2 separate regions of the Homo sapiens genome follow, and region 2 is linked to region 1. Evidence: fine-mapped expression QTL. Tissue or cell type: cerebellum. Region 1 holds a variant in brackets; the other region holds the start of a gene. All regions are shown on one strand. Distances are between the middles of the regions.

What was found. PIP is the estimated chance that this variant, and not a neighbour inherited with it, causes the effect.
Region 2: MRPL23-AS1 starts here. The variant in region 1 is fine-mapped to the expression of MRPL23-AS1 in cerebellum (GTEx, PIP above 0.99).

What each region holds. Positions count from the first base shown.
Region 1 is chr11:2,449,933-2,452,540 of GRCh38, forward strand. All of the region lies in intron 1 of KCNQ1 (potassium voltage-gated channel subfamily Q member 1), which reads left to right. Among named protein-coding and RNA genes, the nearest start is that of KCNQ1, 6.2 kb to the left of the region's middle. The variant C/G (reference allele first, on the strand shown) is at 1,270.
Region 2 is chr11:1,988,560-1,991,167 of GRCh38, forward strand. It overlaps MRPL23-AS1 (MRPL23 antisense RNA 1), which reads right to left and starts at 1,361. Exons shown (of 4, transcript NR_024471.1): 1 at 1,267-1,361. It overlaps LINC01219 (long intergenic non-protein coding RNA 1219), which reads left to right and starts at 2,537. Exons shown (of 3, transcript NR_126400.1): 1 at 2,537-2,608. It also overlaps a transcript of MRPL23 not described here. RefSeq lists enhancers at 1-2,608, 1-2,608.

The DNA.
Region 1 (2,608 bases):
ACGCAGGGGTCCTGATGCAGCGGGTCCAGGGAGCTCATGCCTTCCAGCGATGGGAATGCCACCGGTCCCTGTAGCCAAGGTGCAGATGCACACGTCCTGGTCCTGAGCCCCTGCTCGGCCCTAGGCAGGGCCCCCAGTTCCCTGCATTCCACCCGCCTTGTCTGGGAGGTGGACGAGCCCTCCGTAGCCCTGACATTCCAAACTGGCTTTTGGCCCCTGCGATATCTTGCTGTGATTCAAGACTCTGTCCACGGGCAAGAACAACAAGGCTGGGACAATCTCATCTCAGGCATCTGTGGGAGGAGACAGCTCCCAAGGGCGGTGATGCCAGGAGAACATTCCAGGCCCAGGAAGAGCTGAGAGACAGCAGATGCCCAAGACGAGTTGCTGGTGTGTGGCCAGTGCTGGGAGAGCATGGTGTCGGCCCGGGGAGATGCCGCAGAGAAGCTTCCAGAAGCCCAACATCTGCTGCTGGAGGGGAGAATGAGGCAATGAATATCACCATCCTGGGCCACTTTGACCCAGACCCCAAGGATTTGGTTACAGAGGGGAGGGCGGCAGCGTCTGGCTTCACTCTCGGGAGGTGCCTTGGGGCTGGCCAGTATGGGATTGCTGTCACTGTGGGTCACTCCAGCCCCGGATGCTCCTACACCATGCTCTGCTTGCATCTGGGGTCCCTGCGGGCACGTCGGTGAGACCGTCCTGGCCTCCACACCCCTTCCTGGTGGGTAGCTGTCTCTCTCCAGCAGCTCCTCCAACCACCATGAGAAACCCCAGACCTCACAGATGCAAAATTATCGTGGTTGACAAAGGGAGGCGGCTGGTGTCTCTGGTACTGGCTGGGTGACCACAGGGATGCCGCGTGACCCTAGTCCAGGGGGCCGCTTTTACACGAGGCATCTGACCATGTGATAGGGTGTGGCTTCTGCTGCCTGGCCCAGCCCTCTTCTGGGAGCCCCACGTGGGTGGGTGCTGGCTGGGGAGGGGCTTCTCTCTGGGGAGCAGGCCCTGGCTGGAGGTGGGGAAGATCCATGATGGGACCCAGGTGTCTTCCCACTTCTCGACCATCTCCTGGGAAGTTCTAATGTTTGGTTCAGGGTGTGGGGTCCATCTGAGCAGGCATGGTGCTTCCAGAAGGATCCAGGTTAAGGGTGGTGGGTCCAAGGGGGTGCCTGAGCCCTTCTGCAGAAACACCGTTCCCCGTAGAGCAGCAGTCCCCAACCTTTTTAGTACCAGAGACCTGTTTTATGGAAGAAAGATTTTTCCACC[C/G]GGGCAGTGGTGATCTTGGGATGAAACTGTTCCATCTCAGATCATCAGGTATTAGATTCTCATAAGAAGCGTGCAACCTAGATCCCTTGTGTGCGCAGTTCACAATAGGATTTGTGCTCCTGTGAGAATCTAATGCCACCGCTGATCCAACAGGAGGTAGAGCTCAGGTGGCCGTGCACATTCACCTGACGCTCACTCACTGCTGTGCGGCCTGCTCCCTAACAGGCCACGGACCCGGGGTTGGAGAACCCTGTCTTAGAGGATTGAGGCTCGGGGCCATGGGATCGGCACTGTCATTGCCCTTGGAGGGTTCTGAGCACTGGAAGGACCTGGCTGTGGTCCCAGGCACTGGGTGGATGGACCAGCAGAAAGGCTCCCAGGAGGGTCGTGGCTCCCTCATCGGCACCGGACTCTCAGGATGAGCCGCCTGGAGTCTGTTGGCATCTGCCTGGCCGCCTCTGGCAGGAACTTCTCCTGATGGAAGAGCCGGGCTGGGGAGCTGACTCCAGGACAGGCCCCTGCCCGCTCTGGGACCTGGGGCCTGGGCTCTGCTCCCCATTTCGCTCCTCCACTCACAGATGAGGACATTTGGGTCGCCTTACAGATGAGACAACTAGGCCTGGCCACTTTGCTCATGCCACACCCAGAAAGCCCTCAGGACACCCAGAAGCCCTTAGGATGCCCAGAAGCCCTTAGGATGCTGTGGTCTCAAGTGAGGTGGTGCACTATTCCTGGCCTCAGGCCCAGTTTGTATCCATGGGCACCCCCACTCCCACCTAGCACTTGCCACCAGGAAGCACCCTGAGGACTGTCCCCTTTGAGAGTTGGCTCTCAAAGCCTTGGTCTGTGCCTGCGTCCTGGCAGCGGGTGAGCTACGGCTGCCCTCACCCAGAGAGTGCAGGTTCCCTGGGGGCGGGGGCTCTTAGCTTTCCCTCCATATCTGCTAAGGTGCACACCTTTCTCTGCTGCCTTCCAAAATCATACTCTGGGGCGCACTGAAAGGGTGCTCTGAGTAGCTCTCCCCGGCTCCTGGCTGAACTTGCTCCAGGCAGAGATTTGAAGAGATTCAGAAAGCAGGAACCACAGGCAGAGCAGCTGGACAGGGACCCCCACCCCTGTACTCCCTTCGGCCCTGGAATGCTCCTCTGCATGGAGACAGCCCAGCTGCACTGGGACCCCTCACCCCACCCTGGGGCCAGGGGCTGTGTCCTCGACTTCCACGCAGAGCAGCCCGGGCAGCTTAGAGGAGGGAGCAGAAGGAGCTCTGACTGAGAGGGGTAGACCCCTCCCAGAGGCATCCCCACCCTGCCCCAAAGAGGGGAGCAGCTGGAGACGGGGC
Region 2 (2,608 bases), 460 kb before region 1:
ACAGGACAGCTGGGGATGGGGGAGAGGGGCACAGGCCAGAAAGGCTGGGGCTGCGGGGGCTAGCTAAGAGGCGAGGGTTCTGGGTGGCAGCAGCAGGCAGGGACCTTCCCGGCGGCCCCAGTGGCTCCCTCCCTCCCAGAACCCTTTCTCCTTCCTTGGGCCTAGAGCTTCCTCCACGTACTTTTCCCCGCCCCCGCCTTTCCCCTCTCTCTCACCCCGCTCAAACATGCTGTGACCTTTCCAGGGCCCCTGGACATCACTCACTGGGTGACAGAGGTTGACAGGCATGGAGCTAAGGAATGGGAGGCAGGGCGGGGGCGGCCAAGCCTCTCCAGCCGCTCCCTTCCCGCTTGCCCCACAGACGGGCCTCCCTGGATGGTCCTGGGTCAGCACACACGCTCCCAGGCGCTTCCTTCCCCAGGAGACAGTCCCCAGCCCCTGGCGGCCCAGATCCTCCTGCTCAGGCCGACGCATCCCACCTGGGCCCCAGAAACCTCTTTGGAAAGGGACAGTCACCTCAGAGTGGCAAGCACTTAAAAGAGACCCCCAACAGGCCGGTGTGTCGTGGTGGCAGGCAGGGTGTGTCTGGAGAGAAGGGGGACGTGTCCCCAGCTGGGCCTGGGGGCGGCTCCGTGGGAAAGTCCCACCTGGTCCCAGCCCCGGGTCTCCAGCCTTCAGACTCCTTGGGGGTCTCTGTGGCCTGGCAGAGGTCGGTGGCCCCTCAGTGGAGGTGAGGCCTCTCCTGGGTCACCACCGCACACCGGCCTGCTGGGAAGCTGGGGTTCTGGGCCACAGCCGGCCCTGGACGTGGAGGGGGGCATCAGGCCAGACCCCCCAGGGGCTCACAGGGCTCTGGGAGGCCCTGGCAACCCCAGGGTGCCCCCAAGCCCTCAGAAGGGTTGTCCCTACTTGGAGGGGACCACACAGCCAGGTGGGCAGGAACAGGCACCACGGCGGCCCTTCCCTGTCCACCCTCTCACCAGTGGCCCGCAGTGCAGTCCAGGAAGCACCGGACAGAGCACGGGGCAGGGAGGGGAGGCCCGTACTGGCTTCACAGAGGTCTGGGAGGGGCTAGCCCCTGTGCAGACAGACCCCTGAAGCCTAGAGCCGCCGGCCCAGCTGAGGTCCTTCCCAGGGGCCATTCTGGGACCCCTGACCCCATGCACCTGTGTCACAGGGCTATGAGCGCCCCCAGCCCCAGGACCTCCACGTTTCTCTCTAGAGGGAAGAGGAGGAGGACGGCAGGCCTGCTGGCCCCACACTTACTGGTTGGGGACGCTCAGAGGGGGCAGCCGCCATGCCGGGAAGTTAGGGTGGGCAGAGGAGCAGCGGTGCCAGGACCCCCAGGCCATGCTGCCACCCCGGACCCTGAACAGTGGGCTAGTGTGTGGGCCTGGGGAGTGAGGGCCCAGGCCGGGCTGGGTCTCGCTCCATAAACCCTGGCTGGCCGGAGCTGCAGACATCACTGTTGACACAGGGGTGATGTCACTGCCGGCCAATGGGGAGACCCTCGGGGGCCCTACGTGTGCCTCTCTGTGCTCCCAGGGCCCCCGCCACGCACGCCGCCTGCTCTGAATGCTGCCTGCATAAACCGGTTTTTCTAAATGTCTTTGGGGCCCTGCTTGCCCCCTGGGCCCCATCTCCTGCTCATCCCACCCCACCCTTGGGCCCAGCCTATGAGCCAAGCGGGAGTGGGGAGTGGCGGAGAGCCCTGGGCCTGCCCGCTCCCACAGGCATGTGGGCCCCAGAGCCCTGACCCCTGCACCTTCACCTCGCCAGCCTCTCTCCCATCTGCCACGACCCCAGCTGCCACCATGGCTCCCCACAGTCACCCCTGGGCCGTCTCTTCCTCCTGTCGGGAGAATGTTCCTCCTGGGAGAGCCTGAGGCCCCCTCTCTGCTCCTTGCTCCCCCGTCTGTCTCCCCTGCCCTGCCTTGCAGCCCTGCCCTGGGTCCATATGCTCAGAGCTGGCTACATATCCTGTGGCTGCCCATGACACATAGCTCCCCCAGGCAGGGCCGGACCCCGGGCACCTCTTTGCCTCCAGGGCCGGCCCCACTCTGTTGGAGGTCAGCCGGTTCCGAGGCCTCCAAGCCGCCTTTCTACTTCTCGATTCCAGGGCCTGGTCTCCACTCCCTCTGGGCTTTGGGGTGCATGCTGCAGTGCAGCCTCCCCGCGCCCCGGCCTCCATGCACCCTGCTCGTGCTGCCTCAGAGGCTTGGCATCTCCCCCATCTTCCAGCCAGGCAGCCAGTTTTCTGCAACGTGGGGCCCACGGTCAGCGTCCCCCACAGCCCTGCCAGCCCTTCTCCCCGGGGGTCCGCCCTGCACCCCCTTCCCAGGAGCTTGCTCTGCACCCACTGCTGGGCCTCCTGGCCTAGGGGCTTGGCACGTGCCTGTGAGCAGAGGCGCTGGGCAGGAGGAGGAGGAGGAGCCTGCAGTGCCTGGCGCCCGTGTGTGTTTACTGGTCCGGCCCCAGCCCCGCGCCGCTCCCCGCGGACCCGGCCTCCCGCCTGTGTCCAGCCAGGTGTTGGGTGATGGAGCGGGGCTCCCTAAGGACAAGGAGCACAGTGTCTGCTTTCTTTGCAAGCACAGTGCTGACAAGGAAC